Linked DNA regions of Homo sapiens: regions 2, 3 and 4 are each linked to region 1. The links come from fine-mapping of genetic effects on gene expression. A gene starts in region 1. Each other region holds a variant in brackets. All regions are shown on one strand. Distances are between the middles of the regions. Region 1 holds the start of ZRANB1 (zinc finger RANBP2-type containing 1). Region 2 overlaps ZRANB1 (zinc finger RANBP2-type containing 1). Region 3 overlaps CTBP2 (C-terminal binding protein 2). Region 4 has its middle 63 kb from the start of ABRAXAS2.

The links. PIP is the estimated chance that this variant, and not a neighbour inherited with it, causes the effect. A credible set is the group of variants that fine-mapping cannot tell apart.
Region 2: its variant is the best candidate, but not a certain one, in a credible set for the expression of ZRANB1 in whole blood (TOPMed, PIP 0.84).
Region 3: its variant is the best candidate, but not a certain one, in a credible set for the expression of ZRANB1 in whole blood (INTERVAL, PIP 0.59).
Region 4: its variant is the best candidate, but not a certain one, in a credible set for the expression of ZRANB1 in esophagus mucosa (GTEx, PIP 0.52).

Annotation. Positions count from the first base shown.
Region 1 is chr10:124,940,701-124,943,449 of GRCh38, forward strand. ZRANB1 (zinc finger RANBP2-type containing 1) reads left to right here and starts at 1,423. Exons shown (of 9, transcript NM_017580.3): 1 at 1,423-2,607. The coding sequence starts at 1,794.
Region 2 is chr10:124,986,202-124,988,701 of GRCh38, forward strand. It overlaps ZRANB1 (zinc finger RANBP2-type containing 1), which reads left to right. Exons shown (of 9, transcript NM_017580.3): 9 at 1-1,988. It overlaps CTBP2 (C-terminal binding protein 2), which reads right to left. Exons shown (of 11, transcript NM_001329.4): 11 at 1-2,500. Among named protein-coding and RNA genes, the nearest start is that of ZRANB1, 45 kb to the left of the region's middle. The variant G/C (reference allele first, on the strand shown) is at 995.
Region 3 is chr10:125,006,849-125,009,597 of GRCh38, forward strand. All of the region lies in intron 3 of CTBP2 (C-terminal binding protein 2), which reads right to left. Among named protein-coding and RNA genes, the nearest start is that of MIR4296, 25 kb to the right of the region's middle. RefSeq lists an enhancer at 1,004-1,509. The variant G/T (reference allele first, on the strand shown) is at 1,423.
Region 4 is chr10:124,863,406-124,866,154 of GRCh38, forward strand. No RefSeq gene overlaps it. Among named protein-coding and RNA genes, the nearest start is that of ABRAXAS2, 63 kb to the left of the region's middle. RefSeq lists an enhancer at 1,053-1,552. The variant G/A (reference allele first, on the strand shown) is at 1,557.

The DNA of each region.
Region 1 (2,749 bases):
CGTGGTGGTTCATGCCTGTAATCCTAGCACTTTGGGAGGTCGAGGTGGGTGGATCACGAGGTCAGGAGTTCATCAAGAGAAGCCCGGCCAAGATGCTGAAACCCTATCTCTACTAAAAATACAAAAATTAGCCGGGCATGGTGGCATGCACCTGTAATCTCGGCTACTTGGGAGGCTGAGGCAGGAGAATCGCTTGAACCTGGGAGGTGGAGGTTGCAGTGAGCTTAGATTGCACCACTCCACTGCATTCCAGCCTGGGCAAAACATAGCAAGACTCCATCTCAAAAAAACAAAAATGAAAACAACAACAACAAAAAAACAAACAAACAAAAGATTTAACCCTCTAGGTTCAGGAAAAATCCCTGAGAAAGAGAGAGCAAAGCTTCTATACTCTGCCTAGGATTTCTTTCTCTTTCCGGGTGAAAAATAGGTGTTGGGATGATACTGAGTTGATAAAAGTATTTAGGAAAAGTGGCCAGTGTCTAAATTCAAGCCATTAAAAAAAAAAAAATTAAATTTGTTATGTAAGTTGCTTCATTTATGAATTAGTTGCCATTAAATTATGAAGTCTTTCTTCATTATAGTGTAGTGTTAGCCCATTGTTGAATCCTAGAAATCTTTTAAGTAGTGTGAATATCTTTTAAATATGAATTGGATTTTTTGGGGGGCAGGGGATGGAGTCTCACTCTGTCACCCAGGCTAGAGTGCAGTGGTGCGATCTTAGCTCACTGCAACCTCTGCCTGCCGGGTTCAAGCAGTTCTCTGCCTCAGCCTCCTGAGTAGCTGGGATTACAGGCACCTACCACCATGCACGGCTAATTTTTGTATTTTTATAGAGACGGGGCTTTACCATCTTGGCCAGGCTGGTCTTGAACTCCTGACCTTGTGATCTACCCGCCTCAGCCTCCCAAAATGCTGGGATTATAGGCTTGAGCTACTGCCCCCGGCCATGAATTAGATTTTGAGTATATTTTAAATATTCAAAATTTAAAATATTTTAATTATGAACATTCACAATTATATTGGAATGATTATGCTACTGGTTATTTCAGTGACCTTCCACAGATTTAATTTTCCCCAGTACAGTCTTCTTTTTTTTACTCCAGATAGAACTAGATTTTGAGGCTACAGATTATCAAGGAACTACCTATTTCATAATGTTACTTTGTTAATTGTAGCCATTACTTCTCAACATGTTTCTTTACTACCTGTGCTAATTAAGAACAGTGGATAATTAGCATTTTAAGTTGCTTTTCTCCCTTAGCGAGAATGATAAAATAGACGTTGCTTGATCTTCTGAATTCATGAATCATAATCTGTGTTCATAATTTGAGAATGGTTATGTGTTTAAGCTATTTTTTAGTTTGTGTTGTTTCCTCTACCTTTGTCTCTTTAAACTATTGGTTACTTTTCTAAATTGATGTGATGGCCTCCCTGAAATTAAACATTTCTATTAGTGGCTTCCCGTTAATCTCATCCTTCTTAGATCAAACCTCGTTATATCTCCTGCCTATCTCTTTTGCATTCCAAAGTTCAGTTTTATTAAATCCCAGGGTCTAAGATTTTTTCTTTGAGAATTTATCTCCAGTGTTTCTATGGAAATTAAAAAAGAAAATTAGGATAATTCAATGTCGAAATGTTGCATGCATCTTTTGAGAAATTTATATTTTGTAGGTTGAAGGACTTGCTTTTTGGGCAGCGTATTTTTGGAGGTGGAATGTAGTTATTTTAATAACCATGTCCTAATTATTTATAGCTTCCTGCCTGACACAGCTCACTTCAAGAAGTGCACAATGTCAGAACGTGGAATTAAGTGGGCTTGTGAATATTGTACGTATGAAAACTGGCCATCTGCAATCAAGTGTACTATGTGTCGTGCCCAAAGACCTAGTGGAACAATTATTACAGAAGATCCATTTAAAAGTGGTTCAAGTGATGTTGGTAGAGATTGGGATCCTTCCAGCACCGAAGGAGGAAGTAGTCCTTTGATATGTCCAGACTCTAGTGCAAGACCAAGGGTGAAATCTTCGTATAGCATGGAAAATGCAAATAAGTGGTCATGCCACATGTGTACATATTTGAACTGGCCAAGAGCAATCAGATGTACCCAGTGCTTATCCCAACGTAGGACCAGGAGTCCTACAGAATCTCCTCAGTCCTCAGGATCTGGCTCAAGACCAGTTGCTTTTTCTGTTGATCCTTGTGAGGAATACAATGATAGAAATAAACTGAACACTAGGACACAGCACTGGACTTGCTCTGTTTGCACATATGAAAACTGGGCCAAGGCTAAAAGATGTGTTGTTTGTGATCATCCCAGACCTAATAACATTGAAGCAATAGAATTGGCAGAGACTGAAGAGGCTTCTTCAATAATAAATGAGCAAGACAGAGCTCGATGGAGGGGAAGTTGCAGTAGTGGTAATAGCCAAAGGAGATCACCTCCTGCTACGAAGCGGGACTCTGAAGTGAAAATGGATTTTCAGAGGATTGAATTGGCTGGTGCTGTGGGAAGCAAGGAGGAACTTGAAGTAGACTTTAAAAAACTAAAGCAAATTAAAAACAGGATGAAAAAGACTGATTGGCTCTTCCTCAATGCTTGTGTGGGTAAGTTTCTGTATTCTGCATTTTTTGCGTGGGATGGGAAAAGGTAGTAAAAATGATATGAAAAGAGCTGGGTGCGCTGACACACGTTTGTGGTCTTAGCCACTTGCTTGAAACCAGGAGTTTGAGGCTGTAGTATGCCATG
Region 2 (2,500 bases), 45 kb after region 1:
CACAGAAATATTTGGTGTCCTGATAAGCACTTTCTAGACTATTGATGTGGCCAGGAATTTGGAAAGACGACACACGCACGCGCGCGCGCGCACACACACACACACACACACACACACACACAGTTTTTTCCTTCCCTGTGATGAAAAAGGCTGTGAAAACCTTAAAGTATTTGCTTGCTTCTTGTTTTGTTTAGTTGATAATGAAATGTGTACAACCTCAAATTTGCTGCCAGAATACTAAAAATAGAAAAATACCCACAAAACTGTCATGTCTTTAGTTCTTTCCCCCCGAAAACTCAGTAAAAAGGTGTTCCCAGGATGAAAAGATCATTTTTTGCTGCATGCTAAATCTTGCAGGAAAAATGATTTTTTAGTACGATTCTGTAGAAATGAATCTTTGATATAATGTAAATGCTGCTGTTTGTTTCAAGTGGTGAATGTGTTGTTAAAAATTGGCTGTTTGCTTTCATTTTGGCCAATAAGTAATCAAGTTTGTAGAAAATGTTAGCATTCTGACTACTTAGCATCTGTAGTAATTTCTCTATGTATAGGGATAATTTTTTAGTGGGCAGAGATCCTGTTCTAGTTGCCTGTTAAGCAAAATCTGCCCTCCCAATTGAAAAAGCCAAAGAGAATTGTTAGAGGGAAAAGCATGTAGCCATTGCAGTCTGCATTGCAGCCAGCGTTGTCCAGAGTACACGCTCAGCACTTAGCTTCTACTGTGTGTTGTGGTCTGGTGAGTGTTGTTTCCCCTGAGCGCTCTATTATTTATTTATTTATTATCAATCAGTGACCCTGACCACATAGTGTGATAGGTGCAGCATTCTTCCCTGTGGGAAAGAATTAAAGATGGTTCCATTTCCTAGGCTACAGACAGGAATGGGGCTCTAAATGGTTTTCATAGACTGGCTGTTAAAGGCCAAAAATTTTGGTAAATCAATGCTATATTATGCTCTTGAACTATTAAAACAGCCATAATTATTGTCCCAAGATA[G/C]AATATAGTCCTTTTTCAAAGATGATTATACGTGGCTAGGTGACAGACATTAATGACTGACTCTGGAGAGTAAGTCATACCTGCACTCTGTGGACTTGATGGTTCTTTTTCTAGAGCAAACAGAGCGTGGCATTTTGTTTTGACTTGTTCTTCCTTGGGGTCAAATTTATATATATATATATAAATTTTTGTTTGGGCGACCAAGATCTAATAATTAAAACCCAGGTGGACCATGGATTCAGACCTGCCTTTTTATGTTTTTGACTCTTAGGTTCATCGTGTCCCAGACTTCTTCACATATTCGTGAAGGTAAGATATTCTGTGTGCGCTTGGCCTCCTTTTCACGCATATTTCATTGCCTCTTTGATGAGTGGTTACGAAGACGTTAAACTACCTTTTTGTTCCCTGGGGTAATAGGTCAGTAACTATGAGCGCCGTCTCTCTCCATGTGAGCTTGTGTTAATAGACACTTTTATGGTAGAGTTGGGATGGGGCCACCACCTTAAAATGAGTGAGCAGACAAGGCCAGGCAAGCCAAAGGCTTTAAGACACCATGATTTTCTTGTTTTGTTTTAATTGGGAAGGGAAGTATAAGGAAGAGCTCAGAGGGAGTTTCATACCTGGAATTGTTGGACTTAATTGACACTTGCAAATACTTTTAGTATAAAGGTTTAATTCTATTTAAAAAGAAGATCCATTAAATCAAGCTCTTAACTCATGGGACTATTTGCAACACTTCTTTGTAAATATCATTTTGTTTGTTAGGTTATTGGCAAAACAGTTTCAAGGTTCACTTCCCTCCCTTGAACCAGGTCCAGGTCATTTTGCTTTGGGGTAGATTAAAGTCAGAACTCTAAAAGTTGAGCAACTTTGTTTTTTTTTGAATTGATTTAGCACTAACCCACCATTGCATCTTAAGGATGGCATGACGTGATAATGATGGACTTGTGTGAGGTTTTGATTTTTCAATTAAACTTTTTGTTATCACAGGTAATTAATTGTCAGCGGTCTTGAGTCTGGTTATGGAACCCTGTAGTAACAAGAGCTGGAAATTGGCTAATTGACAATGCAATTGCCTTAAACATCTCAAGTAGAGAACATTTACATTAGTGAGATGTACTTGAATTTCAGAACTTAACAAATTTTAATTACTTTTTATTGAAAACTGCACTGAACGCTAAATGTCCACCTTTACAATAAACAAATACAGTAACGGTAACTCACACTAAAACAAAACATACTTCTGATAGCCATTATTTTTCTGTTTGGGACAATTTTAAAGTTTTTCTTTTGTCACAAAAACAGGAATGTACCTATACAAAGGCTCAAAATAGGCCATCTTTTTAAACAAAAAGGCAATGATTCACAAAAGACTATGAATAGAACATGTAACTAGTTGATACAAATCTAATAGGATTTGTTAAAATCAGTCACATCTAATACATCTGAAGTGTTCTTGTATAAAATATCACGTGAAGAAAAGAAGACTTTATCAATGTCTAAAAA
Region 3 (2,749 bases), 66 kb after region 1:
TCCGAAGAACTGGGCTTTATGCTAAAAAGCCATGGCTTCCAGTTGCTATGCACAGCTGACGGCCTTTTCCATGCGTACAGACCACAAGGCTGACAAGAGTCCTGCAGTGCTGCTGTTCTTCCCACTTCACAGCCCGGGAGTCAGCGCTCAGGGTGGCCCCGTACCACGGTGCGCAACCACGAGGTATGAGGAGACACTTGCGGACGAGGGTCACAGGGCCCTGGTGCCCTCTATGCGCTATTTTTCCTTTCTACCGTCTCCCGCCAGTAAACCTGCCTTGTCCATTTCAGGACAATTCCAGCTGCAACTGGACACATCACGGAAATGACATCAGTGCCTTACTGTTGACAGCTTGCCCACATTAACTGTGTAGAGCAGAAAGCCCTGCCGGCTCCCCTGGTATCAATTACTATCTGGTTTCAGGCTTGCGTGTGCACCAGGACGGCCCTGCCCCTCCGTCCGGGATGTGCTGTGCACCAGCTCAAGGCAGTGCTGACGCCCATCCCTGGGCCTGGTATTGCTTAGAGCTGCAGCTGCAATAAATACTTGTGAAATGAGAGATGCTCAGTCAAAAACAAAGACAACACCAGGCCAAACTGCTGGACTTTTGTGAACAGTAACCAGACACCCAGGAAAAGCAAAGTGCGTGGATCTCACAGATCCTAAGGCAGGTAGATCTCAGGGAGGATGGCGGAAGGATCCGGAGCTGGAAAACGCTACATTTCATTGTGGGGAGCTGCTGCTTTCTCGGATACAGGCAGACAGGCCTGGAGTTGACCTTCTGGCTCAGTACCATGCAAGGCAAATGGGATGTTCCCCTGAGCAGTCACCAAGAAGGAACTGGATTGATCCTGCCACACAAAGCTGCCTGCAGTGTTTCTGAGACCCATTTTCCAGTCTTCCTAGACACTGTGTGAGCTAAGCCGACATCCTTCCAACAGAAATTCTCATTATTTAAAAATGATCTAAATGGGTTTCTGTTGCTTACAGCACAAGACAACCTGCCCCAGGGTAAAGGGTTTCAGGATTTGAGGCTTCTACCCCAAAGCAAAGCAGCTGCAAATGATCATTTCTGACATAGGAGGCAAAGGCTGGCTCTGGCTTTTTTTTTTTTGGAGACAGAGTTTCACTTTTGTTGCCCAGGCTGGAATGCAGTGGCACGATCTCCGCTCACTGCAACCTCCACCTCCCAGGTTCAAGTGATTCTCCTGCCTTAGCCTCCCAAATAGCTGAGACTACAGGCATGTGCCACCATGCCTGGCTAATTTTGTATTTTTAGCAGAGACAGGGTTTCGCGATGTTGGCCAGGCTGGCTTCGAACCCCTGACCTCAGGTGATCCACCTGCCTCGGTCTCCCAAAATGCTGGGATTACAGGCAATAAGCCACCGTGCCTGGCCGGCTCTGGCCTCTTTTTTTAAAAC[G/T]CACTAGATTTTATGGAAGTTTCCTGACACCGTAGCAGTCTCAAGACACCAGTGCCTGAGTCACTCCCTGTTCCTGACAGGGGCTACGGCTGCCCAAGGACAGACACTGGCCACATACCCCAGGGTTGCCCCATGAAGTCCCTGCAGGTTGCAGTCTTAGAGCTGACCGAGCTATCACATTCATGAGAAGAACCGCTGCTCAGAGTCACAGTAGTGGCCTTGCAGGAGGGAGCCTCTGTGGAATGAGGGCAGTTGCTGGAATTTGCCGGGTGCCGTCACCAGCTGCCCTAACACAGATGTTGTAAGAAGTACCTGGATCCTTCCACAGACGGGAGATCCAGGCAGGTCTTCCAAAGATCCCGACAGAAGGTGTCAGAGTGCTGCAAGCAGCTCCGAGCTGTACAGAGTAAAGCAGAGGTTCCTCTTCAAAGACTTTCCTCCCCGTCTAATTAGGAATAAATACTAACTTCTCTTAGAGGCAAAATTTATTCAAAGATCTGTGCTAACATTCTTAAATATTTGCTAGCCGTAATAAGGAAATCAATGTACGTTATGTTCTTAGCTCCCGCAATTTAGCCTAAATATTTGCCTTAGCATGCTTATACTGGTCCAAGCAAGCATTAGGTCATAGCCTGTTCCTCTTCCTTATTTGAAGGTGTTTTTACCTTTCTCAACATTCCACAAGTTACTTCCTCCTTCCTTTGTTCCCCTCTACCTTTGCCTCTTTAAAAAAGTTCTAAGTTGCTAGCCAATCGGGACAAATAGAGAATGTGAGGTCCCTTTCCAGCCAACGGAAACTGGACACAGCGGTAGGGTGGACGTGTCAGGTTATAAATGACCCTGTGTCCTTTGTTGGGTGAACTCTCGTGGGAAAACTGCTGGAGAGTGTACCCTTTCTGCAGAAAGTAAAAATGGCCTTACTAAGTAAATTAAATTTATGTTCAAGTGCTATTTCTTTATGGCACCGGGGAACGAGCATTCCAAACAGAGCCAAGCGATTCACGGCTTCATCAGCCCCTGTGACCTGCAGGTGGCCTGGGAGGCAGGAGGAGCCTAAGCAGCCGGTGTGGCTCCCAGCCTCATGCACAATGATCCAGGAAGAAAGAGGAGACAAAACCACACAAACTCCAGAGGCCGGGGCGGGACAGGGAGTGACCCAACACAGCCGAACCTGAGGCCCCGCCTGCCTCCAAGGAAGCCCCACTTAATATCCCACCGATCCCACCACCCTCAGAAAAGCTTCCTCTTAAATGCGGCCTGCTCCCCAATTAAGTGGCCGCTTTCTGCAATCCAGCATGACCCGATCCCCACTGGCTGAGCTCAGCAG
Region 4 (2,749 bases), 77 kb before region 1:
GGGTCAGAGGCTGCCGCCTGGCTGGCCCTGCTGTTGGAAAGAAGCCTGGGGAAAGGTAGGAAGAACTGTGGATTCCCTCCTGGAGCGAGCTGCCCTTCCCAGCCCAGGGTGGGTATGCTTGGGAGTAGGACCCTCTGGCCACGTGCAAGGAAGCCCTACCAGGCCCACAGCCCAGGTTATGCTTGACCTCTTCCCCTAACAGACTCCAGGCAAGTCTCCTGCCTCCTCCAACCTGTTTTCTTCCCAACCAGGGCAGCAGAGCAGGTCCTGCTGGCTGGCCTTTAAAGTCTTGCTTTTAACTTAGCCCCATAGCTGGGATAGGGTCAAGTGAGGAGACCTCGTGAGGCTAAACTAATCAATGCCCTGAAATGATATTTCTCTTATCAGTGGATCTTCCCCCTGGCTGCACTTCAGAATCCCGGGGGAGCTTCAGCAAATACCACGGCCGGGGCCCAGCCCTAGGGCTTCTGGAGTAGGGCTGGGGCCCATCCCCGGGGCTTCTGGAGCAGGCCTGGGGCCACTGGTAGGGTTCAAGAGCTCAGCAGGTAATTTTATTTATTTTTTGAGACGAAGTCTCACTGTCACCCAGGCTGGAGTACAGTGGCACGATCTCAGCTCACTACAGCCTCCACCTCCTGGGTTCAGGCGATTCTCCTGCCTTAGCCTCCCAAGTGCCTGGGATTACCAGCGCCCACCACCACGCCTGAATAATTTTTGTATTATTAGTAGAGACGGGATTTCGCCATTTTGACCAGGCTGGTCTCAAACTCCTGACCTCAGGTGATCCGCCCTCCTCGGCCTCCCAAAGTGCTGGGATTACAGGCGTGAGCCACTGCTCCCGGCCTCAGCAGGTGATTTTAACGAGCAGCCAGAGTTGAGATGGCTAGTCTAAGCCTCTAGTCATTCAAATGTTTAGCCTGTTGAGGCTGGAAGAGCTCCAGAGACCCTCCGTCTGGCCCTCATCTTACACGGGGAGACTGAGGTCTGCGAGGAGCCCGTGGGCTGGGAATGACAGTCTCTGTTTCCTGCCCCGCCTAGGACCTGAGACCACATTCCTTTTTTAGAGCACAGCGTGGCAGTGAGCCAGCATCTCAGCCCCAAAACAGGTCAGGCCAGGGAGGAGTCCAGGCCTGGTGACCATAGCTGCTGTCACTCAGGGCACACCCACTGCCTGCCAGGCTCTGGGCGGACACCTTCCTTCCACCACATAGGTGGCATTATCCACGCTTTCTGGTGATGACAGTGAGGCCCACTTGGCCAAAAGCCACTTGGGAGGAAGTGACCCAGCCAGGAATCATCCCGAAGCTGACTGACCCTGAGGCCTGTGTGTGTCCCATGAACCCTTCCTCTACCCCTCCCTCCCAGGGGAGGAGACCACCAGTGCAGGAGTCAGCGGACAGGGGCCCCTTCCTGGCACTGCCAGCTGGGCCAACAGGAGGAGAGAGAGGCAGGAGCAAAGACCTGCTTGTCTGAGCCTCGGTGTCTCTTGCAGTCCAAATGCCATCTGGTCCTCAGTACAAATATATTTCTAGGAAATCAATGATGTCCGGGCTGTC[G/A]CAGCCTCACCTCTGGACACTTATATAATCATTAACAAATGTCTGCCATTAAAGAGAAATGACTGTCATTTGACACCCAAGCTCCATTTCCAAACAGCAGACTGGTATTTACCCTCCTCCTGAAAAGAGTGGATTCTAAAACAGACGGCTGAGCTCACCTCTTCCTGATTTGCAGGAAACAATCCTCCAAATGTAAAGGTCTCAACCCAGCCTCCCAGCCAGGGAGTTCTCTGTCCATAAGGTTAAGGCTTCTATTCAGATTCAGCTAAAATAGCACTTCATGAAGTTGACTTTCTTTTCTTTTATTTATTTAATTTTTGAGACAGAATCTTGCTCCGTCATCCAGAAGTGCAGTGGCCCTATCTCGGCTCACTGCAACCTCTGCCTCCCGGGTTCAAGTGATTCTCCTGCCTCAGCCTCCCAAGTAGCTGGGATTGCAGGCACATACCACCATGCCTGGCTAATTTTTGCATTTTTAGTAGAGATGGGGTTTCCCCATGTCAGCCAGGCTGGCCTCGAACTCCTGACCTCAAGTAGTCTGCCGGCCTCAGCCTCCTAAAATGTTGGAATTACAGGCATGAGCCACTGCACCCAGCCAGCCATTGTGCCCGGCCCCAGCCTTTCTTCTAAAGGAAAGTGTTTAACTATGTAGGCAGGAAATGCACTCTTCTACATTTTAGATTACAAAAATGCTTCCAAGGACACAAGGCGTTCTCTTGTATCCTCACGGCTGTAGGAAGCCCTTGAGTGAAGGGTAGACGGTGGGGCTTTGAGGGTCACAGGGCAAGTGCTGGGCCCAGCATGGCCACGGACTGACTTCAGGAACTCGGACAGATCACTTCTCCCTGCGCCTCCACCTCCCCACCACCGCCGTTTGGTAAGGGAGCTGGAGCAGCTCAGCTGTCCACAAACCTGGCCACCCATCAGGATGACCCGGAGAGCTTTTTGGTCTGCTGCCTTTTAAGCTCCTCGTCTCTCTTTTAAGCACAGCCAGGTTCGGGAACTCCTGGCCAGCAGGCTGCCAAGCCCCCAGCTCTGACGGTCTGAGTGTCTGGTGGAAAGCTGCAAAGCCCTTGGCCCGCCAGCATGTCTGACCTGATGTTTTTTGCCCACTTCAATTCCTGGCATGTTGTAATGATGAGAGATCTGGTTATCCTGGGATGGTCCGTTCAGGCTTAGAACCATAGCTAACG